Linked DNA regions of Homo sapiens. The protein of the gene in region 4 interacts with the protein of the main gene of each other region in a pairwise test. Each region holds a gene or a part of one and is shown on either strand. Other genes may lie near its edges.

Evidence for each region.
Region 1: the proteins of TMEM14A (region 4) and USP18 interact in a two-hybrid assay, tested with the Homo sapiens proteins (one large-scale study listed by BioGRID and IntAct).
Region 2: the proteins of TMEM14A (region 4) and CLN8 interact in a two-hybrid assay, tested with the Homo sapiens proteins (one study listed by BioGRID).
Region 3: the proteins of TMEM14A (region 4) and MTNR1A interact in a two-hybrid assay, tested with the Homo sapiens proteins (one large-scale study listed by BioGRID and IntAct).
Region 5: the proteins of TMEM14A (region 4) and MTNR1B interact in a two-hybrid assay, tested with the Homo sapiens proteins (one large-scale study listed by BioGRID and IntAct).
Region 6: the proteins of TMEM14A (region 4) and NEMP1 interact in binary tests that used the Homo sapiens proteins (3 or more experiments, as listed by UniProt).

What each region holds. Positions count from the first base shown.
Region 1 is NC_000022.11:18,166,681-18,170,868, reverse strand, and holds part of USP18 (ubl carboxyl-terminal hydrolase 18), read right to left. Parts: intron 3,615-4,188; coding exon 3,535-3,614; intron 2,980-3,534; coding exon 2,833-2,979; intron 1,026-2,832; coding exon 930-1,025; intron 117-929; coding exon 1-116. UniProt on the Homo sapiens protein: Interferon-induced ISG15-specific protease that plays a crucial role for maintaining a proper balance of ISG15-conjugated proteins in cells. Regulates protein ISGylation by efficiently cleaving ISG15 conjugates linked via isopeptide bonds.
Region 2 is NC_000008.11:1,766,613-1,770,800, forward strand, and holds part of CLN8 (protein CLN8), read left to right. Parts: intron 1-4,188. UniProt on the Homo sapiens protein: Could play a role in cell proliferation during neuronal differentiation and in protection against cell death.
Region 3 is NC_000004.12:186,535,342-186,538,735, forward strand, and holds part of MTNR1A (melatonin receptor type 1A), read right to left. Parts: intron 3,371-3,394; exon of another isoform or gene 2,904-3,370; intron 1-2,903.
Region 4 is NC_000006.12:52,683,838-52,687,513, forward strand, and holds the end of TMEM14A (transmembrane protein 14A), read left to right. Parts: intron 1-240; coding exon 241-328; intron 329-2,172; coding exon 2,173-2,212; 3' UTR 2,213-2,751; downstream 2,752-3,676. UniProt on the Homo sapiens protein: Inhibits apoptosis via negative regulation of the mitochondrial outer membrane permeabilization involved in apoptotic signaling pathway.
Region 5 is NC_000011.10:92,971,963-92,976,150, reverse strand, and holds part of MTNR1B (melatonin receptor type 1B), read right to left. Parts: intron 1-4,188.
Region 6 is NC_000012.12:57,061,557-57,065,744, reverse strand, and holds part of NEMP1 (nuclear envelope integral membrane protein 1 isoform a precursor), read left to right. Parts: intron 1-1,005; coding exon 1,006-1,099; intron 1,100-1,559; coding exon 1,560-1,674; intron 1,675-2,400; coding exon 2,401-2,626; intron 2,627-4,188. UniProt on the Homo sapiens protein: Together with EMD, contributes to nuclear envelope stiffness in germ cells. Required for female fertility. Essential for normal erythropoiesis. Required for efficient nuclear envelope opening and enucleation during the late stages of erythroblast maturation.

The DNA.
Region 1 (4,188 bases), on a different chromosome or scaffold from region 4:
TCCAAGCTCTGGGGGAAGTACAGGGAGTGGCAGATCTTTCTCGTCTGTGAATTCCTGATGGAGAATCGCATGAGGTGGATTGTCAGGGTCTGGGGCAAATGGGTCAGCTTCAAGACCTGAAAAATCAAAATCACTCTGGAGATGAAGTCTACTTGGAATGAGAGAGTCAGAGAAATGTCAGGGCTAGCAACGCGTTCTTCCCAAAAAGAGGGGAGCGGGGCGACATCACGGAGTTCAAGGCTCCTGTTCGCCGAATCTGCTGAGCTCCTCTGAGAATAATGCAAAACTTGGCTATTCTACCACCATGTGGCCCCCCACAAGAGGCACAAGGGCACAGGGCTCTGCACAGGTACCAGGACCCAGGGAGCCACCGCGTCTGCTCCAGGGAGCTGGTCTCGCCTGGAGGGAAACGCCCTGCCGGCTGCTCTCAGGCGCCCTCCTGCAGTCCCTCTCAGTGATGCGACATGAGAAGCCACATCCACGGCTCCAGATATCAGAACCACAGCGTCCCAGATACTAGCCAGACCCAGATTCCCTTTCTCACCCACCATGGGGTGTCCTCGGGGCCTCTGATGATTCTATCAGGAAATCCACGGGGGGCAACCCCAGACTAGTGAAGGACAGATGACCCCTGAACAGCACGGGTTTGGACTGTATGGGTCCGCTTATACACAAATTGTTGTAAATAAATACAGTCTGCCCTCCCCCATAGGCACGAGTTCCACATCTGCAACCAAATGCTCATCAAAAATAAAGTATCCCAGATGCACAACCGCATAGATGAGGGACTGACTTTTCCTATACGTGGGTTCCACAGGGCCGACTGGGTGTGACTTGAGTGTGTGTGGATTTTGGTAAAAGCAGGGGTCCTGGAACAAATCCCCCATATGCACCGAGGGACAGCTGAGTCTGATTTAGGGAATGAGTACCTGTTTCCCACGGGTCTTCTTCCCACAGTTCTCACAGAAGCACTTGCTTTTGCTTGATAACTCCCTGGGCTGGAAGAAGCAGTGCAGGGCGTCCTCCTGTCCCACCCAAGAGAACAGGGAAAAAGCAGCGTTGGTATTTCCCACCTAGAATACTATATTCATCTGTTCTCACACTGCTGTGAGACAATAGCTGAGACTGGGTAATTTATAAGAAAAGAAGTTTGATTGGCCCATGGTTCTGCAGGCCAACCGGAAGCATGGCAGCATCTGCTTCTAGGGAGGCCGCAGGAAGCTCCCAATCATGGCGGAAGGCCAAGCAGGAGCAGGTGTCTTACCTGGGAGGAGCAGGTGTCTTACCTGGGAGGAGCAGGTGCAAGAGACCAAGTGGGGAGCTGGAGTGCAGGGGCGCGATCTCAGTTCACCGCAATCTCCGCCTCCCGGGTTCAAGCGATTCTCCTGCCTCAGCCTCCTAAGTAGCTGGGACTACAGGCTGCGCCACCACGCCCAGCTAATTTTTTTATGTTTTTAGTAGAGACAGGGTTTTACCATGTTGGCCAGGCTGGTCTCAAACTCCTGACCTCAGGTGATCCACCCACCTCAGCCTCCCAAAGTGCTGGGATTATGGGCGTGAGTTACCACACCCAGCCTGGCTCCACACTTTTAAACAACCAGATCTCATGAGAGCTCACTGTCACAAAGACAGCACCACGGGGGATGGTGCCAAACCATTCACGAGAAACCCTCCCCCATGATCCAATGTCCTTCCACCAGGCTTTACCTCCAACACTGGGGATTACAATTGAACAGGAGATTTTTGGGCAGGGACACAGTCCCAAACTGTATCAGTTACAGCCTCCCCACACTTTGCAGCTGAGGGTTTCAGCTTTTCTTCTGGTTCTCCTCATATCCCCCTTAATGCCTGGCCTGGTGTGGTCCACTTGGCAGGATCTCAAAGGGCACCTACTGACTGGAGGAACAAAACAGGAGGGGGCTCCTATTAAGGGAGCAGTATGAGGGAAGTGGAGGTAGGAGGGAAAAACATTTTTGCCAAACAAAGGAGAAATTGGCCAGTGCCATGAAAATGAAATAAGTGACTTTCCAGAAGCCAGAGATAGATCAAAGAGGCAAGGGGGAATTGGCCACACTGTGCTGTGTGGTGTAATGGTTTGAGGGTTTGTCCTCCCCAAAACCCAGGTTGAAACTGAATCCCCAGTGTGGCTGTATGGAAAGGTGGGGACTTTGAGAGATAATTGGGGAGGGCAAGGTGGCTCATGCCTGTAATCCCAGGGAGGCTGAGGCAGGTGGATCATGAAGTCAGGAGTTTCAGACCAGCCTGGCCAACATGGTGAAACCCCATCTCTACTAAAAATACAGAAATTAGCTGGGCATGGTGGTGGGCACCTGTAATCCCAGCTACTTGGGAGGCTGAGGCAGGAGAATCACTTAACACCAGAGGCGGAGGTTGCAGTGAGCTGAGATTGTGCCACTGCACTTCAGTCTGGGCAACAGAGGAAGACTCTGTCTCCAAAAAAAAGGGGGGGGGGAGGTTATTGCATCATGAGGGCACAGCCCTCATAAATGAATTAATCCACTCATGGATTAATGGGTTAATCGGTTATCCTGGGAGTGGGACTGGTGGCTTCATACGAAGAGGAAGAGAGATTTGAGCTGGCACATTAGCATGCTCAGCCCCCTCGCCATGTGATGCCCTGCACTGCCTCGCCTCAGGACTCTGAGAGTTCCCACCAGCAAGCAGGCCCTCACCAGGTGCAGCCCCTCAACCTTGACTTCCCAGCCTCCAGAACTGTAAGAAATAAATTACCTAGTCTCAGATATTGAGTTATAACAACAGAAAATGGACTAACACATACAGGGGCAGCAAATACCAAGAGAATCCCCTTACCAGTGTCTTCAGGGGCTTTGAGTCCACATCAAAAAGAGAAAGTGGGAGGGTGAGCATGCTGCTGTTTCTGCTACTCTCCATGGCACAGTCAACGCAAATCAAGGAGTCCTTCACCCGGATCGTATACAGGGCCTGCAGTCTCTCCACCTGCAAGAGGGAGAGCGGAGAGGTGAGATGGGAACACCACCATAAGCCAGGTCAGGCCAACTGCCAGAAGGTGGAGCCAAGAGACAGAAGCTCCTCACAAAGGTGCAAAATAATACCAGTAACAATATTATGAAACTGTGATAAGTGTTTTATGTGGATTAACTCTTTTTTCTTTTTTTTTTTTTTTTTTTTGAGACAGAGTCTCGCTCTGTCACCCAGGCTGGAGTGCAGTGGCGCGATCTCGGCTCACTGCAAGCTCCGCTTCCCGGGTTCACGCCATTCTCCCGCCTCAGCCTCCCGAGTAGCTGGGACTACAGGCTCCCGCCACCACGCCCAGCTAATTTTTTGGTATTTTTAGTAGAGACAGGGTTTCACTGTGTTAGCCAGGATGGTCTCGATCTCCTGACCTCGTGATCCGCCTGCCTCAGCCTCCCAAAGTGCTGGGATTACAGGGGATTAACTCTTTTATTCCTCTACACACTACGGGAACAACAGCTGAATGAGTGAAATGAGCAGCATCTTAAGCTTCCGAGTGCTCTGGTTCTAGGTTCTTACCAAGTGCACATCAGTGATCTGGTCCTTAATCAGGTTCCAGAGTTTGAGGTACAGTTGGGCAGCATCATGTTGGACAAACACTGGCCACAGAGAAAAGGAACAGCCAATTAGTGAGGTCTTCAGAGTCGCTTCTCATGCCCTGGTACTTAGACACACATGAACACTCATCACTTTGTCTCTTCCTAGCCCTCCACCCCACTGCAAGGCTAAGTTGGCACGACAGAAGAAGTGATCAATAAATGAACAGTAAGTTTGGTATTGATTTTTGAGAACGCCTCTTAAAACTTAAGCTCCAGTGCCAGATGTAGTGGCTCATGCCTATAATCTTAACACTTCGGGAGGCCAAGGTGGGAGGATCGCTTGAACTCAGGAGTTTGAGACCAGCCTGGGCAACATAGCAAGACTCCGTCTCGATAAAAAATTTAAAAAAGTACTTGAGAGTAGCGGTGCACGCCTGTAGTCAGAGCTACTTGGGAGGCTGAAGCAGGAGGATCACTGGAGCCCAGGATGTTGAGGCTACAGTGAGCTGTGATGTCACCACTGCACTCAGCCTGGGGAATGAGATGTCCACAGGGACTTTGAAAAGCACTGATACATTCCTGAGGATCTAGAAGGCCAGGCGCATGCCCAAGTAAGACCTGAGAGGGCTCAGAT
Region 2 (4,188 bases), on a different chromosome or scaffold from region 4:
GATCTCCTGACCTCGTGATCCTCCCACCTTGGGCTCCCAAAGTGCTGGGATTACAGGTGTGAGCCACCCTGCCCGGCCGATTCGGCCTCCAGTTTTACCCATGGAAGGAACAGTGACTTCCAGCTGTGCATTACACTTAAGGACTCCTTCATGTGGCCTGAGCCTTATGGTGCACAGCAAGGGAACAGTGGGAACCCCTGTGTCCCATTTTGCGTATCAAGAGTGAGAGGGTGTGGTTGGGTCAAGGAGCAGAAATAGAAGCAAAAGGAGAAGCTGAGCTCTTCCCATACCCCTTCTGTGCTGCCTGACAGAACAAGGCCTAGCCACACTTCTGTGGGTGCCCACCTTGTGACTTGGGGTGAACCACAGCTGTTCTCAGTACAACGCTGATGCCACGAAAGGACAGCAGAGCTCTGCAGGACTCCAGGAAGACTGGGCGCTTGGGCTGGATCCTGCCTCTGGGACTGGCCTTCTACCCTCATGGCTGAGAGAGCTGAGGAGTTCACCTCCTTTGTGAACTCCTGGCTGGAGGATGCTGGTTGGCATTAACTAAACTCAGAGACCCACAGTAACGAGTTAGACTAGAACAGCACCAGCTTACCCAGAAAGTCAGGAGGTTTGAGCAAAGAATCAGAATGGGGGATTCACTACAGGACTGGAAGGGGAAGTAAGCATTCTGGTCTTTATAATCTGCTGTTTCTGCATCCCTAATTGGCACCTGTTCTCTGACTGCCAGGAGGGTTTGCCCACTCAGCTGTGGCTTACCTGTTTCTGTTTCCATGTCTTTCACCTATCTGCCACTTTTCTGTAGATATGGTAATCTCTCCAAAAAGATATCTAGAAAGCTTGAAGACCTGGTAGCTATTTGCTCTTATGGTGAAGATCACACAAACTAGTTGAACATCTGGCTTGTAGTAGGTGCTTCATTTCCCGCTGCTCTGTATGTTTCTTTCTTTTTTTTTTTTTTTTTTTTTTTTGAGACGGGGTCTCATCTTGTCACCCAGGCTGGAGTGCAGTGGCGCAATCTCAGCTCACTGCCACCTCCACCTCCCGGGTTCAAGCGATTCTCCTGCCTCAGCCTCCCAAGTAGCTGGGATCACAGGCATGTACCACCACGCCCAGCTAATTTTTTGTATCTCTAATAGAGTCGAGGTTTGACCATGTTGGCCAGGCTGGTCTCGAACTTCTGACCTTGTGATGCACCTGCCTTGGCATCCCAAAGTGCTGGGATTACAGGCGTGCGCCACTGCACTCGGCCTGCTCTGTGTATTTCTTTTTCCTGTAGTCAGATTCTGGGGTCCAGGGTGGTTAGGAAAGAAACTTGTTTTCTTTCTTTCTTTTTTTTTTTGAGATGGAGTTTTGCTCTGTTGCCCAGGTTGAAGTGCAGTTGTGTGATCTCGGCTCACTGCAACCTCCACCCTCCTGGGTTCCAGAAATTCTCCTGCCTCAGCCTCCTGAGTAGCTCAAATTACAGGTGCGCACCACCACGCCTGGCTGATTTTTGTATTTTTAGTAGAGGCAGGGTTTTGCCGTGTTGGCCAGGTTGGTCTTGAACTCCTGACCTCAAGTGATTCACCCACCTTGGCTTCCCAAAGTGCTGGGATTACAGGTGTGAGCCACCACACCCAGCCTGAAACTTGGTTTCTTAGCTCCTAAATAGTGAAATCAAGATCAGAGCCCACTAAGCCAGCCGCTCTTCTTGGTTTTTGGTTCTCATGTCCTGGAGTCCCTCTCACCTTGACCAAACCAAAGACCTCCTGAAGCATCACTTGGGCTCACCACTTCCACTGAGGTGGATTTGAGTCATTGATCTGGGCAGAGCCTTCTGGAGTCGGGGTTTCTCTCGTCTCAAGGCAGAGGTCCTACAGAAGTTAGTGGTCTTGGCCAAGCGGACATTGATGCAACTGTGGCAAAATGGGACCTATAAGTCAGAGCTGATGACCTACTCGTGGAAAAGTACAGGGAGAAGTTTTACGAGGGGTCCATATTTTAACCTTTAACAGTGTTGTTCACGTTAACCCTTGTAATGGATGCTATTCCTTGCCTGATACCTGTCCTTTCCACCCAGCCTGCTTTTCTTTAATGCTGGTAAGCGGTCTCCCCTCCAGGCATTAGGCTGCACTTGAAGTTGATCTGCTCCTGTGAAGTGCATAGGGGTTCAACGATGCCTTGCTGCACACTGAATACCAGAGCCGAGTGCTCTTGCCAGCCCCTTAATACCATGTTCAACCTGATTTGTCAACAGGTTAACAGAAATGTGTTTGGAGATGTGTAAGTACACTGGAGTCTTGATATATAGCATGACCAGAAGTGTGGGTCACGAGGGCACACATGGGCATGGCAGCCCCTCAGTTGTCATCCATAGCATCTATCAGAGAGCACGCCTGTGTGCCCTGAACTCACGCACCAGGGGCAGCATGACACGGGAGCCGTTTCTCTAGGGAGAAACATGAGTACCAGTGCTGTCTTTCCCCACATCAGATTTGTGTTCAAACAGAGCTAGTCTGTGTTAAAGCTGGAGTGTTAATGGAGAAACAGACAAACTCTTGTACTATTTTGCCTTTGATTATAGACCATTATCAAAGCAAGAGGTTAGGAGTGATCAGTGCTCCCTTGTCATTTGCATCAGGTCCCAGGACTCACATTCTTTGCATGCTTGTGTGAGCTAGTGTTTTCCATGTCCTTGGGGTGTGGTCACAGCGACCTTTTTGCCTGAATAATGATTGGCAAGTTTTTGCTGAATGGCCACAGTGAATGGCTCCTCCTATGCTTCTGGCTCTAGTCCTGCTGTCTCACAATTGAGTCAATTCTGGGGTCTCTTCCGGAGAGCAGAGGGTCCAGCTGCGTGGGGAGTGTGGTGTTCCCAGCCCTGCTGTCTGTTCGCTGGGTGTGAGTGACAAGAGTCCCCACTCCCTGCAGAAATTCCATTACCTGGACAAGTCCCTGCACACTGGGTGAGGGGGGACCAGGCGGGGACCTGAGTCTTTGTCGGTAGCCGTTCCTATGTCATCGTTGTGTGCCTGGGTTTCCTGCCGTGTAAAAGGAAAGGCTGGAATCAATCACACGTCCCTTCCAGTTTTTCAAGAACTTGAGACTCTGGTGTTTGTAGCTTTGCAGACAGGTTCAGGCTTAGGTAAAGTGGACCCTTTCAGCATGATTCAGCATCTGTTCATGTGTTCCATAAATGTTTCTTGAGGGCCCACTGTGGACCCAGTGCTGCATCAGGCAGAGGAGATGCTGTGATGGAAGGCAGGTGTGGTCTGTGCCCTCACAGAGCTTGCTGTCCAGTGGAGGTGAGGATTCAGTAAGCACTTGTCCTATGTGCACCCCACCAGCAAGTCTCCCGCCTTCACAGCAGTCCCAATCAGTCACACAATTCAGGCATCGCAGGATGAAACATATTTAAGTCATTACACTGGGATACACTTTGTTACAGCACTGAACTTCTGCTGTTTGATCCTAGTTAACACCCCAAACACCAAAAATGAGTGTTTGGGGTATGCATCAGGAGCTTGTAGCAAAGGTACTTAACCCAGTCCATGGGTCTCCCCTACTCTGGGAGGGCATCTGGAGCAAATGGCCTTTAAGTGAGGACCTGACAGGTAAGATGATGCCAACTTGGGGAAGGTAAAGACTTTTCCAGGAGAGGGCCCAGCAGCTGCAGAGACCCAGAGGTGCAGGAGAGTGTGATGTTTTCAAAGGACTGGAAGGTTATAGCATGGAGTGAGATGCAGGGGATGGTGAGAGTGGAACCAGAGAAGGTATAATTGATAATCACATTCTGCAGAGTGCCGTAGGTCACAGTGAGGAGTTCAGGCCTTCCCTGCTGCTGTTGAGAAGGCATTCCATGGCCTTAACCAAGGAATAACATGAAGAACAGGAGCACAGGTTTTCGTGACATCCTTGGGGTGTTAACTAGGATCAAACAGCAGAAGTTCAGTGCTGTAACAAAGTGTATCCCAGTGTAATGACTTAAATATGTTTCATCCTGCGATGCCTGAATTGTGTGACTGATTGGGACTGCTGTGAAGGCGGGAGACTTGCTGGTGGGGTGCACATAGGACGAGCATAGGACCGTGTGTTCCTGCCAGCACGGCTCCGGCCTCCTGTTCGTGGCTGGACCGCTCTAGCTTTAGTTTCATTTTCTTTCCTCCTATACTGTCAGTGGATGTTACCTTGGTATGTTTA
Region 3 (3,394 bases), on a different chromosome or scaffold from region 4:
AGTCTGTTAATTTTCTCAATTAATATAACAACACATATTTAATTACAGAAAAAAAAAACTCTAGTCACTTTTTTATTTTTATTTTTTTGAGACAGAGTCTTGTTCTGTCACCCAGTCTGGAGTGCAATGGTCCGACCTTGGCTCACTGCAACCTCCGCCTGCAGGGCTCAAGCAATCCTCCTACCTCAGCCTCCCAAGCAGCAGGGACCACAGGTGCACACCACCACACCCGGCTCGTTTTTGTATTTTTGTAGAGACGGGGTTTTGCCATTTTGTCTAGGCTGCTCTCAAACTCCTGGGCTCCAGCCATCCACTTGCCTCGGCCTCCCAAAGTGCTGGGATGGCAGGTGTGAGCCATTGCTCCCAGCTACATTAGTCAAATATTATGAGATGTTCTGCAAATATGTTTTTTTTCTTTTGCGGCTCTTCTGCCTCTGTTTCTTACTATTCCTTCTGCCTCGAATGGCTCCTCACATCAACTTTCTAAATCCTGCCCATTCTCCCAAGTCTATCTCAAATAGAAATGCCAGAAGCCTTTGCTCATTTGCCCACCTAGTGGTAAGAGCTTCCTCCTTTGAAGGGTCTTAAAGCACTTTATACTGCTTTTTACTCAGATTAAATTATAATAAATTCAATTCAGTTTACATATTAAATGCATATATTTGGTGCAGGGGGAAACAGGAATTGAGAGACAGGAAAAGTCAAAAAGATTACACTAGAGTGGTTGGGCGCAGTGGCTCACACCTGTAATCCCAGCACTTTGGGAGGCCAAGGTGGGTGGATCAACTGAAGTCAGGAGTTCAGGACCAGCCTGGCCAACATGGTGACACCCCGTCTCTACTAAAAATACAAAAATTCGCTGGGCGTGGTGGCGGGCACCTGTAATCCCAACTACTTGGAAGGCTGAGCCAGGAGAATTGCTTGAACCTGGGAGGCAGAGGTTGCAGTGAGCAGAGATCGCGCCATTGCACTCCAGCCTGGGTGACAAGAGCAAAACTCCGTATCAAAAAAAAAAAAGAAAAAAAAGAAAAAGAAAATTACACTAGAGTAAGCAGCAGCACCAGAGCACGCACAGACCAGAAGCTGTGAGGAAAGGGGTGCGCTGGACAGGGACAGAGGGAGCCCCAGGTGGACGGACAGAAGATTTCGCCTTCTATTCTATTGACCTGTAGGCCAGGCTTCCCTGCGTCTCCAGATGGTGGCCCTCGTGAGTACATTTCCTCATATTTGCGTCCTAGACCACACCCAATAAATACAGTGACTTTTGCTCATACACTCAATGAGTTCATTAAACTGTCACTTCCCAATATTTGAAATGAGACAGCCCATAGCAGTCAAGATGAGAGAAAGGCAAAATTTGTGCCATTTATTTAGGAATTTCAGATAAATTGTCATAAAAGCAAATACTTTAAAAATTGGTTGTATTCATCCAAATTAAAGTTACAAAGGCAAATTTATTTTCCCACAGATCACTTTCAATTAGCGTTGAAACATTTAAATTCCTAAGAGGTGTATTTTAATAAATTATTTAGCTCAAAATGTTTAATGCTTTAAAAGCATCTATAATATGTGAAATTCTGTTCCAAATCAAACTGTCATTGTAACAGCACATTTGTTCCCAGAGTGTCATGATGACAAACTGGCCTAATATGGATTTATTTTTAAAAGAGCTTAAAAATGAAATCACAAATGATGTCATAAATTTCTTTCATGGCTCGAATACCCTGCTTCATTTATTTTATAGTAATTATGTTGCATTACAATTCAAGCAATTACATTAATTAGATCATTGATTCTTTGAATTAATCCCATTTTACAAATCTTGGTGAAAATTAATTAAGCCACAGACTCCCCACAGGTGCGGCTGTCAGGTAGCTCACATAAAGCTTTAGCACCAGTGTTCATGTGTGCCTGGGGGGTGTGTGGTGTCTGGGCGGAGAAGGAAAAAGGGAATTTCCTTTTTTCTTTTATGAACTTCACCAGATAAGAGTCATTAAATCATCTAATTATAATTATACACATTATAAGTTCATCTATTCCATTCTCAAATCTATGTAACTCCAGACATATGGACAATCTACCCATTTTTACAGATATCCAGGACTGTATGCAACAAGCTTAATAATGCATTCTGAAATGTAAAATAATGTCTGTTCATGGGTAAGAATTTCTTCTCTGTTGAATATAGTTCCAATCCTTACTGTGGCAGAATCATAGAATCATAGGATGTTAAAATTGAGAGATGGGTTAATGATCTCCCTGGATAATTCCTACTTTTTAAAGATGAGAAAACAAAAATATAGAGTTAAATTGGATGAAGTCGTACGACTACTTAGTGAAAGAGTCAGGATTATACCAATGCTATGAACTGGTGAGTGTTGTTCAATGTTATTTCCCTGAGAAAGCTCCTGTGCTCCTACAGATACGAGACTCAGAAACTGGGCCCTGTGGCTACGTCCTGGCTTACAGCCTCTCCAGGCACAATTCTGAAGAAGCGTATTTGAACTAGAACATTCTAAAGAGAAGATGGGGGAGGAAAACACCTAAGTCAGTATGCTGGCAACAAGACGAACAGCGATCAGCCTTGTGGTGATTAAAGGCACCAACTATAAAATGCACAGTCAATATTTGTTCCCAGGAATAAAACCTTAAAGTGGAAGTGAAATATGGCACAGATATGAATAAAATAAGGTAACAGACAACTAAAATGTCAGCTTGCTGGGAGTACCTTCCTCAGAACTAGTCCTGTGAGTCCCTTCTGGGAATGACACAGCAGCACGACGTTGCTTTTCTGTTTATCGCGATTATGTCTCTACTTCTCCCCATCTCCCACAGCCCCAGCTATCACCTCGGTGAGGACACTGCCTGTCTTAGATATCTTCTCCCTCCACCTTGAACAGTACCTGGCCGAGGGTTAATCGATGCACAGTGGGTTTATATTGTGTCAACTTCGCGAAGCTGAAAAGACTTTTCCTTGCACCGCTCCGGGTTAGTGTTCCCCACAAGAGGCAATTGCGTGAGATTTTGAAGGCGGAAGTGCAGCAGTAGCTTGCTCTCTGCCCTCAGTATGTCTGTGTCAAGTGCCAGACGCCACCACAAGCTCGGCACTCCGAGTCTCATCTGCTGCCCTGCAGGGGGTGGGTGACGGCAGTGTGCTCACAGCTTCTCCAGCTCCTGCTCACCTCCTCCTGGCTTGAGATTCGACCATCCTCCAGAGCTCCAGTCCCTCCTCCCAGGTTCTAGCTTCCCCTGCGTCCCCTCCTAACATCCAGCTTTCCTTCTTAAATCCGTGGACTTTAGACAGCAGCACCAGACACAGAAGCGAAAACCTCAAATACGCTATTTAATCAGCTCACACAACTGCTCTAGCAATTTTACTTCTTGGATTGATTGA
Region 4 (3,676 bases):
CTCCCAACATCAGGTGATCCACCCATCTCTGCCTCCCAAAGTGCTGGGATTATAGGCGTAAGCCACTGGCCCGGCCATGAAGTGTTTTAATAGAGCACTTTATCTTTTCAAGACAATGGCAACTCAGTACCTATCCATAATAGTTGTAATGTTAGAAAGCTTTAAATGGTACCCGCTGTTTTCCCACAAGCATTGATAACATGTTTGAAACTCTGGTTCATGAATTAGTTTGGTTTTCAGTTACAGCTTTCTTCCTGGCTACCATAATGGGTGTGAGATTTAAGAGGTCCAAGAAAATAATGCCTGCTGGTTTGGTTGCAGGTTTAAGGTAAGTAAAACTATTTTGATCAATACTTTCCTCTGCTGTTGTTTTGAAGTGCTGAATTTTTGGGAAACATCAATTTTAATTTGAAAGATCAAAGTCCTTTTTGTTATAATAAGCATGACAGTAAAAACCTTAAGATAGCATGGATTCAGTGGGTCTTTGATATTGATGTACCCATGAACATTCTTATTGGATACGCATAGTGTTGCTGTAGTATCTGGTCACATAGGCATACTTGCCTTTTTCAGAAGAAAGAGCTAACTAAACTCAGCCTCATTTTTCCTCAAGATTCACCCATCTGCAACACTAAATGTGTTCATTTAAATCTAATACTCAGTCCCTTTTAGAGAGTTTGACAGAGTGACAGTGTGATACAGTTATTTCAAGTTTTTAAGGGACAGAAATTTAATATTTTTAAGAGTTTTTAAGAGAGAAGTTTTAATATTTTTTAAAAGATAAACAGAGGGCCTCAAGTTTCTCTTAATTTGATCCAGTAATTCTATCCATGAGATTAAGCATATTACCAAATAAAAATTTAGAGATAACATTTTAAAAATTTCTCCAGAAAGCTGGCTTTATATGTTGAAAGCCATAAACATGTTTATTTCCTTTGATAGACATTTTCACTTTTTGGAATTTATTCCAAAGCAGTGAGATATGCACAAAGACTGATGTTCATTGCAACTTTATTTCTAGTGAAAACACAATAGACTGAAAAATTAGGAACAACCTAACAGTTCACCAGTAAGGAGATGTTTGAAAAAATGTTTTGTCCATTTAATGGAATATTGAATGAGCATTACATTTTTATGTTTTCAAAAATGATTTGGTGGCATTGGAAAATCTTAGTGACATAATAAGGTATAAAAACAGGATGAAAACAACCACATATAGTGTGATTAAAAAAAGTTTGTGTATAAAAAAACAGGAAGGAAATATTTCAAGCTGTTAGTGTTTTTCTGTGGGTGATAGTGTGATGAATAATTGTAATGTTCCTCTTTCTACTTTTGTGTAGAATTTTCTAGTGTGACTATGTATTATGTTTCAGGGAGGGGAGGAGGAGTGTGATTACAAAAGACAGCTTTCCAGTTATAGCCCTGTTCTAAAAGTGATACTTGGTGGTGGGAAGAATCAGAAGTAGGGTTTATGGGCTGGGTGCGGTGGCTCATGCCTGTAATCCCAGCACTTTGGAAGGCTTTGGCGGGTGGATCACTTGAGGTCAGGAGTTCAAGACCAGCCTAGCCAACATGGCAAAACCCCATCTCTACAAAAATTAGCCAAGTGTGGTGGCGGGCACCTGTAATCCCAGCTACTTGGGAGGCTGAGGCAGGAGAATTGCTTGAGCTCAGGAGGTGGAGGTTGCAGTGAGCCGAGACTGCGTCACTATACTCCAGCCTGGGTGACAGAGTGAGACTCCATCAGAAAAAAGAAAAAAAAAAGGAAGAAAAAATGAAGTAGGGTTTATGGATCCGGAAGAAGGCCTCAGTTAATAGAAAGTAGCTGAGATTGAATTAGTAACTGCCCCAAGTTGGTCCTCGATTATTTTTTCAAGTTGCTTTATTTTACTAGCTTCTGAAAGTTTGTTTCTTCCCAAACCTTTCTCTTATAAACCCTCATCCAAGGTTTTCAGAACAACAGGTTCTGATTTTTCCTTATTCATTTAGCGAACATTTTAAAGTGGCTAATTCAGTTATGTCTGGGATGTTTTAATCCTCCAAGGGGTTGAGCTGGGAGAGCCCCCAAGCCAAGGATTAGTAACACTACTGGGTAGGCGAGTGCATGGCCCTTTCTGTCTTATGCCAGATAAAAGTGACTCTCCCTTTGTCTTTGTTTTATTTTAAATCCAGCCTCATGATGATCCTGAGACTTGTCTTGTTGCTGCTCTGAGCATCTGGAGGAACAGAAAACTAAGTTCATGTCATCCTGCTGTAATGGGCAGAGCATATTTTTTTTGTATTTAAAAGATAAACTTCAATATGGAATGCTAGAAACACAAATAGCACTGTCACCTCTAATATGAACATTAGTTTGAGGTAGTTTTTTTCTAAAGCAAAAATTTTAACTGTTTTCTAATTGTCAAGCACTATTTTCATTAAAAGTGTCTAATGAATCATGATATACTCTTCCATTTGTTGTGTCTATTTTTTATATATTTGGTATTTTTTGAAAATTCCAAATACTCATGTCTCAAGTAAGCTTAAACTACAACTTGTCACATAAAGGAAGTCTTAAGTGGAGTTCACAGAATGATAATGTATCTATTTGTCATTTGTGTTATATTTGAAATTATTAGAAATTATGCTTTTTCCATTTTAATTGTATTGCTGCCAGTGCTATTTTTTTCTTTAAAAAATTTTATTCTTAGCACACTGTTATGTCCTAACTGAATGTATTCAGTATTCAAATAAAAGACATTTTGGTTCAAACCTGTTTCTTTCATGTCAGTTTTTCCTCTGAATACTCAAATCATCTTTGACATTTAAATATTCAATTATTAACGAAAAGGGTTGAGAAGGAGGGTTTATTTAAGCCAACATTCTACTTCCTGAGGCGTAGATATTTTTTCTCTCTGAAAGAGTAACGATTCTGAAACAAACTGATTTTGTTTCAAATTACCACTTTATTTTTAGGCATAGTTATAACTTTTAATGTCCAAGGCACTTTTAGGGCCCAAATTGAACATCGGGAGACCTGAATCCCAGCCCAATTCTTCCACCCACTTGATGCTCTTTGGAAGGTCATTTCCTTTTCCTCTGACTCAGTTTCTCATTCTTAAGGAGGAATTGAACTAAATGATCAACCCTTTAGAGCTCTAAAAATCTACAGTTCCTATCCTGTTGGTTATGTGCAGTGGTGTCATACTTCAAACCCTTTCTTTAAGTGAAAGCGTAGGGTCCTCAACTGATAACGGCAGAGTTCATATGGTTCTGTTAGATTGGTTACCTTTCCCAACTGACTTTCAAGGAGGTTGTTAAACTTTCAGTGATAAGTAATTCAATTAAGGGAAGAAAAAAGCTGTACCAGTTGAACCGAATAGGAAATCTAGATAAAATTATTTGATGTACTTAAAAAAATCCCAATTTAAAGAAGAAGAAAGAAAATCCCATAAATCCTAATGGTGGCAAAGAGGTTGTTACCACAGGCAAGGCTGGAAAAAGCCGTCATCATTGAGGTGCTCTGCTCACTTGCTAGCTGTCAGAGATGACTGAGGAGAACCTTCAGATTCAGACTGACAGCAGCTTATAGTCAAAACTGATTACGATACTGAAGTAGAAACTAACTGTGAAATTGATCCTAGAAATACATGCTGTGTCTGCAGAATACTCTAGTGATTCAAAGTTTAAGAAACTG
Region 5 (4,188 bases), on a different chromosome or scaffold from region 4:
AAGACAGGCAAACATTAAAGTCTTTATACCCTTGAGCTACTGAAAGTTACATGGGAGGAATTAAAGAGGATTATTAGCTTTCCTGATTATTCAGCTAAAGACATAATTATGGGATTTAAAAACTGTTCATTTTTGCTCAGTGAAGAGGCAATAAGGTATTCACAGCTGAAATGCAAAGTTGGACAGCTTAAGAAACATTCAGGAAGGAGTCCAAGGTTACCCAGTTTGGTCTTGGGCTGATAATGGCACTCTAAACATTGCAGGCTGAGCAAGTCAAAAGACACCTGATGCCAAGTGACATCTCAATGAGTGGTCGGTGGTAGGATAGAAGCCTTGATGGAGTGGGCTCCACTTCATTCTATAACTTGGAGGGTAGGGGCTGTGGGCCTATTAAGCATTTCACTCTAGGCCTTCCAGAGCCTTTGTTCAGAACCATGCTGCTTATTAAGCATCATTTGCTGTCTCAGTCAACAAGTTGGAAGAGAGGAGGCAAGGAACAGGGGCCACAGTGCAGACTGTTTTCTAATCTAACCGGGGAAGCAAAGCACCTGCATAGGCAGAATATTCCCATCAGGAACCTCCCAGGCAGTTACTGGTTCTGGATAGGAGATGGTGTGAATTCTTAGCATCACTGGGGGCCTGGAGGAGGGGCAGCTTTGCCAGCATAGACAGAGTGACCTTGGACAAAGATCTGTGTGTTCAGCAAGCAAATCCTCCATGTTTTCCTAGGCAATCTTAACATCAAATAGTTCATATATTTCTGCTTTACCAATCATCAACGTACCCCAGAAATGCCAATTCGTGCACTCACTAAACCTCCCAGACAGCCTCTTTAACCCATTTGCAGCACAAAAATCCATTGTCAGACCACAGCTTCTGACTGCTACTTGGAAAATTAAGGTGGCTGTGCCTATGGAGCCAGGAATAACTGGTGTTGTTATGACTTCCTCTCTGATAGTGGAGAGTACTTGGGTGTTACAGTGAGGACATGGTTCTCTCAGCTCTCTTATATGGCCAGCATATTACAGGCAGCTTAAAAGTGGCCACCTCGGGCCAGACCAAGAAAGGGGCTGTATTAGTCTGTTTTCACGCTGCTGATAAAGACATACCCAAGGCCGGGCACAGTGGCTCACACCTGTCATCCCAGCACTTTGGGAGGCTGAGGTGGGTGGATCACCTGAGGTCAGGAGTTTGAGACCAGCCTGACCAACATGGAGAAACACCATCTCTACTAAAAAATACAAAATTAGGCCGGGCGCGGTGGCTCACGCCTGTAATCCCAGCACTTTGGGAGGCCAAGGCGGGCGGATCACGAGGTCAGGAGATCGAGACCATCCTGGCTAACACGGTGAAACCCTGTCTCTACTAAAAATACAAAAAATTAGCCGGGCGAGGTGGCGGTCGCCTGTAGTCCCAGCTACTCGGGAGGCTGAGGCAAGAGAATGGCATGAACCCCAGGGGGCGGAGCTTGCAGTGAGCCGAGATTGCGCTACTGCACTCCAGCCTGGGCGACAGCAAGACTCTGTCTCAGAAAAAAAAAAAATTAGCCAGGTGTGGTGGCTCATGCCTGTAATCCCAGCTACTCAGGAGGCTGAGGCAGGAGAGGTTGCAGTAAGCCGAGATCATGCCATTGCACTCCAGCCTGGGCAACAAGAGTGAAACTCTGTCTCACAAAAAACAACAACAACAAAAGACATACCCAAGGCTGTACAACTTACAAAAGAAAGGTTTCATTGGGCTTACAGTTCTACATGGCTGGGGAAGCCTCCCAATCATGGTGGAAGGCAAGGAAGAGCAAGTCATGTCTTATGTGGCTGGCAGCAGGCAAAGAGAGAGAGCTTGTGCAGGGGAGTTTCTCTTTTTCCATCAGATCTCATGAGACTTATTCACTATTGTGAGAACAGCATGGGAAAGACTTGCTCTCATGATTCAATTACCTCCCACCAGGTCCCTCCCACAACATGTGGGAATTCAAGATGAGACATGGGTAGGGACACAGCCAAAGCATATCAGGGGCAAACTCCCCAAGAGGAATCAGTAGGGTACAACCATGGCATGGCTGGAAACTGCTGAGCAACTTTACTCACACAGGAGAATCACAGAACAAGCATGCCTTCATGCAGAAGGTGCCAATAGTCAGCTTAACATGAGATATACTTTGGGCTGTTCTCAAAGCAGTTCAGTTTCATGAAAACCTGTATTGATTACTTATGCAGTGCTGAGTACTGTAACTGAGGTCTATCCCAGCTCATGGAGCAAAATCAATTAATTTTCCCCCACTACCTGGTGTCTTATCCATTTCCAATTTAATCAGAGATGTGTTCTGTTCTTACTATGTGTCTGGCTCTGTGGACAGAAACTGAATGAAAGTGTCTGCTCTCAGCAGGTACACGGTCCAGCGGGGAGAGACAAAGAACAATAGTACAGTGAGGGGGATGCTGTACTGGGGAGGGCACAGGTATCTTAGAAGCCCAACAAGGGAGACACTTACTATCCCCTTCATGGTATTAATAATCAACATTGATAATCCTTCAGGGGAGTTGGGGAAGGAGTTGAAGGAGGAGCAGCTGTTGACTGGGCAGAAGAGGTAGAGAAAGTACATCAGGGAGTGCAGACCCTTTGGGAAGTAGCAGCAGCTCACTGTGACACTGGTGAGAGGAGGGCAATGAGGCTGTAAGTTAGGTGGGCTAGGCCAGCCGCAAATGGCCGTGGGAGCTGTGCTCTGGAGTTGGACACTGTTCTGGAGATGGAGGGCAGCCACTGAAGACAGGGAAACTCTTGGCAGTGGTAACAGTGGCTGGGGGAGGGAGCAGGAAAAGCTCTCAAGCACTATGGATAGTGTTTGCTCAAGAGATGATGAAGGCATGAAGTGGGGCAGTAAGAATAAGGAGGCAGGAAAGGGAGAAATTGAGAAATAGTGGAAGGTAAAATCATTAGGACATGTGGAATGAAAGAGTAGGAGGAACCAAAGATGACTTTCAGGGCACAGGTATCCGGGAGATGAAGAGAAAAAGGAGATCCAAAAACTAGCACCAGGTTAGCCGAGGGAATGAAAGGTCCCACAGAGGGAGTGGCCCTCAGTGTCACACACAGCACAGAGGAACATTTCCAGAGAATGGCGCCCAGAGGACTGAGGAAGGACGGGAAGCAATGGGGTAGAACCAGTAGATGTCCACAACTACATTAAAATGTCTGGCTGAAAAGGGAGGGAGAGAGGTAGTGATGAAGTTAGGAGGACATGAAGTCAAGAAAAGAGTCTTTTGTTCTTTTAAAACAGGAGACTTTGTGTATCGTGTGTGTGTGTAACATGGAGGAAGTTTCCAGAAGAGAGAAAGGAAGAGCTCAAAAATGCAAGAGATAAATATTAGCGAGGTGTAGCTCAAGGGTCAGGGCAGCAGTGGTGAGCCCAGGAGGGAAAGTTCTCAACGGCTCTCAGTAGAGTCAAAAGTGTGGCAAGTCCCTGGGAAGCACAATCTGACAGGCGTGAGGTGCCAACCCAGTGCCATGGGCTGTGCAAGACTCTGAGAATGTAGCAAAGAGTGAACACACTTGGCCTTACCTTTTAAGTTGGGTCGGTGCCCTGACCCTACCTCCCACCTTGCCTCCACTCCTCCCTGTCTGCCTTTCTCTGGTGCTATCTCTGAAGTCAACCCACCACATGCAGCAACAGACACTACAGATAGGATATCCCTGAAAAAAAAAAGACAATTAATCTAACCACTCACCCTGCCATCAGGAGCGGCACTGTTAGGAATGATACAGATCTGCTCCATAGAGGAACTGGGTTTGTGATAGGCAAGTAAAGGATACTGGTGTCTCCTGGGAAACATGCTGTGACCTCAATATGGGCTATGTATCTTGGTTATTGGAAATATATGTATTCTCATTGTTACAGACTTAATTTTTTAATACCAATGATTTAAGGAGCCAGACTTAAGTACAGAAAGGTCTGAAGAAGCGTTTCTTAAATTAAATCCAAACTCTTCAGTAAGACAAGGCCTGATTAAGAGTAGAATGTGTGCTAACTATTCAAAGAGCTGTAGGTTTTAAGCGCCTTTTGAAATCTCACTCTGCTGAGATCATTTAGTTCAAGTCAGTACTACAATTGTTTGTGACTGTCACCAATAAAGCCAGAGGTCACATAAGAACTGGTTAAATTGCAAGACTGCAGCAGTGGCAGGAATTGAT
Region 6 (4,188 bases), on a different chromosome or scaffold from region 4:
CAGATCACTTGAGCCCAGGGAGTTCGAGACCAGCCTGAGCAACATGGTGAAACCCTGCCTTTACAAAAAATACAAAAAAGTCATGGTACCAGCTACTCGGGAGGCTGAGGTGGGAGAATCACCTGGGCCCAGTAGATCAAGGCTGCAGTGAGCCATGATGACGCCATCGCACCCCAGCTTGGGCAACAGAGTGAGACTTTGTCTCAAAAAAAAAAAAAAAAAAGATGAACCAAGCACTGATATAGAAGCTGTAGCAAGTTATTCAGAAGATCTAGCTAACATCATTGTTGAAAGTGGCTACAATTAAAGAGCTCCTCAGTGTAGACAAAATAGCCTTATACTAGAAGAAGATGCCATTGAGGACTTTGATAGCGAGAGAGAAGTCAGTGCCTAGCTTCAAAGGAGGGGTGATCCTCTTGTTAAGGGTTAATGCTGTTGGAGGATTGACTCCAGTTTTGAAAGAAGTTGTGGTAAAATGCTATCAGACAGTATTGCATGCTTTAGAGAAATCTTCATTGAAAGGATGAGTCAATGCAGCAAACTTCATTATATTTTAAGAAATTGCCACAGCCACTCCAGCCTTCAGAAACCACTGCCTTCATCAGTCAACAGCCATCAACATGGAAGTGAGACCCTCCACCAGCAAAAAAAATGATGACTCACTGAAGGCGTAGATGATCTTTAGCAGGTTTTAGCAAAGTATTTTTAATTAAGGAATATATATTTTTAAGACATAATGCTGTTGTACACTTAATATACTATAATATAGTGTAAACAATTTTTATATGCAGTGGGAAACCAAAAAATTTGTGTGACTTACTTACTGCAATTGCAATATTTGGTTTATTGCAGTGGTCTGGAACCAAATTTGAAATGTCTCTGATGCTTGTACTGCTCTAATCTTGTACCTTTTAAAATCTTTCGGCTGGGTTAGTTGTCCTAGTTTCAACAGTGCTATGTATGAAATATATACATATGGTCATGAAATACATTTTTTTCCTGCAGAAGTCAAATTTTCTACTACTCTACTGGGATGACTGTGGGAATTGTGGCCTCTCTGCTAATCATCATTTTTATACTATCTAAGTTTATGCCTAAGGTAAGTATCAGAATCTTCATGTGCAGCTAGAATGAATTTGGATAGCTGAAGGACTGTTTTCCTGGGTAATCTTAGAAAACTGAAAATGTGTATTGATGGCTGATGAGTCAATATCCTACTCTCCTTGATTCAGAAAGGTACTTTCCACGATGAAACTTGGAGCCTGATTACAAATTCTTTCTTTTTATATAAAATCCTGTGCTCAGAGGGGGATTAAAGTCTGCTTCCTGTTTTTTAATTATATAGCCAGGCTTTTAAGTTATTTAGCATTTCATCTTCCCAGTGTTCGTTGCAGACTGTACCATTTTAAGTATAAAGGACATCTTTTTAAGAGAAGTGTTTTTTGTGCATTTTGAGTAGGTTGAATTTTTTAAAAAAAAAATCATAGTTCCATTTTGCTTCTTTTATGTATGGAAAGCCTGTTGTAACTTTTTGCTTTCACTTCTACTCTCTGTCTTAGAAAAGTCCCATTTACGTCATCCTGGTGGGAGGCTGGTCTTTTTCTCTGTACCTCATTCAACTAGTTTTTAAAAATTTACAAGAGATCTGGAGGTGTTACTGGCAGTATCTTTTAAGTAAGTGTTGTCGGTTTTGCTTTCCTTTTGTACGTTTATAGGCTGTTTCAGTTAATTTGATCATGAAAAGATTTTGCCTGCTTATGGGATTTAATAGTTCATGTCATTTTTTTAAACTTTTAAAAATCATAGTTTTTCACTTATTTCTAATCCCTCTACAATTATCACCTTCTCTTAAATTAGAATGGTGCTGTTAAGGCGAAGATGTTCATTTATTGGTATTTATAAATATACCTTTCTTTACACAATAAACATCTTTCTGAAAAGCTGTAAGTTGACTTTATTAATGGAATCATATTTTAAATATACTTGGGGACCTTAAGTAAAAGACTCCGCAGTTAATTTTTTTCTCCTTCATTTCTGAATGAACTGCTGTAGATTTTATTTACAAAGTAAAAATCCTTGGTCATATAGATAGTAACCTTTGAGTTATCCTTTGAAGGGTGATTAATCTGGATTTCTGTATATTGGTTTTTTAAAATAGTCTATTTCAGGGTTGTTCAACATGTACCTTTAATGTTCTGTTTGAACCAAATAAATTTGGGACAGCAGAAAGGATAGAAACTTAGAGAAATATATTCTAAGAAAAAAGTGTGAAAAATTAAGTAAAAATCTGATTTCCTAGTTCAATTGGTGCTATATAGTAAATTAACTACTGCTTCCCACACAAATTATTTTTACCAAGTATAGATGAAAAAGAATGTCTTCTGATAACTCTTCTCATAGGTTATGTCCTCACAGTTGGATTCATGAGTTTTGCAGTATGTTACAAGTATGGGCCCTTGGAGAATGAACGAAGTATCAACCTGCTGACCTGGACCTTGCAGCTGATGGGCCTGTGTTTCATGTATTCTGGCATCCAGATACCACATATTGCCCTTGCCATTATCATCATTGCTCTTTGTACTAAGAACCTGGAACACCCTATTCAGTGGCTGTACATCACCTGCAGGTGACTGAAAGGCAATGTAACTTAATATTGACAGGTACATTGTGGGATGCAGTTGCAGCAAGAGGATACAGAGGTGTTGACCTGGGAGCTTCTTTGTTAATGAAAAGTCATTGTATTGTACTTCCACTTTTGTTCCTTCCCGAGTCTATTTTTTTTTTTTTACTTTCTATAGGAATTTTTATATTTTTATTCTAGTCATTTTATATAAAATGTCTAGTAAAATGTCATGTGTTCCTGTTACCACAAGGTGGTGCAAATTCTATCACTGTTTTTTTGAGATGGAGTCTCGCTCTGTCGCCCAGGCTGGAGTGCAGTGGCGTGATCTCGGCTCACTGCAACCTCCACCTCCCGGGTTCAAACGATTCTTCTGCCTCAGCCTCCTGAGTAGCTGGGATTACAGGCATGCGCCACCACATTCAGCTAATTTTTATATTTTTAGTAGGGTTCCCCATGTTGACCAGGCTGGTCTTGAACTCCTGACCTCAAATGTCAGGAGTTCATAAAGTGCTGAGGAGCTCCCAAAGTGCTTGGATTACAAAGTGCTGGGATTACAGACATGAGCCACTGCGCCCCGCCACAAATTGTATCGCTTTTATACCGTATGCTCATTGAGGTCTCCTGGGTTCAGATTTTTTTTTTGAGACAGAGTCTCTCTCTGTCACCCAGGCTGGAGCACAATGGCGTGATCTCGGCTCACTGCAGCCTCCACCTCCCGGGTTCAAGTGATTCTTCTGCCTCAGCCTCCCGAATAGTTGGGACTACGGGTGGGCGCCACTATGCCTGGCTAATTTTTGTATTTTTAATAGAGATGTGGTTTCACCATGTTGGCCAGGGTGGTCTCAAACTCCTGACCTCAGGTGATTTGCCCACCTCAGCCCCACAAAGTGCTAGGATTATAGGCGTGAGCCACCTCACCCAGCCCATTTCAGACTATTTCTCAGTGGCTTTCAGATTGCTCTGGAGGTCTTAGTCTTATTTTAAGATGTAATTCATAGCATGTTTTGTCACCTTGCATAATAAATATGGAATGTTACTAGGTCCTGAAGTTGTCTATTATAGATAGTCAAGGTGATGCTTTCAGTTTGGGAAACCAAGTTACTGGACCACAATCTTTTTTTTTTGAGATGGAGTCTTGCTCTGTCACCAGGCTGGAGTGCAGTGGTGCTATCTCAGCTCACCGCAACCTCTGCCTCCTGGGTTTAAGCGATTCTCCTGCCTCAGCCTCCTGAGTAGCTGGGGTTACAGGTACATGCCACCATGCCCAGCTAATTTTTGCATTTTTATAGTAGAGATGGCGTTTCACTATGTTGGCCAGGATAGTCTCAATCTTGACCTTGTGATCTGCCCACCTTGGCCTCCCAAAGTGCTGGGATTACAGGTGTGAGCCACCTTGCCCGGCGTTTTTTTTTGTTTTTTTTTTTTTTTGAGATGGAGTTTTGCTCTTGTTGCCCAGGCTGGAGTGCAATGGCATGATCTCGGCTCACTGCAACCTCCGCCTCCCTGGTTCAAGCGATTGTCCTGCCTCAGCCTCCCGAATAGCTGGGATTACAGGTATGCACCAC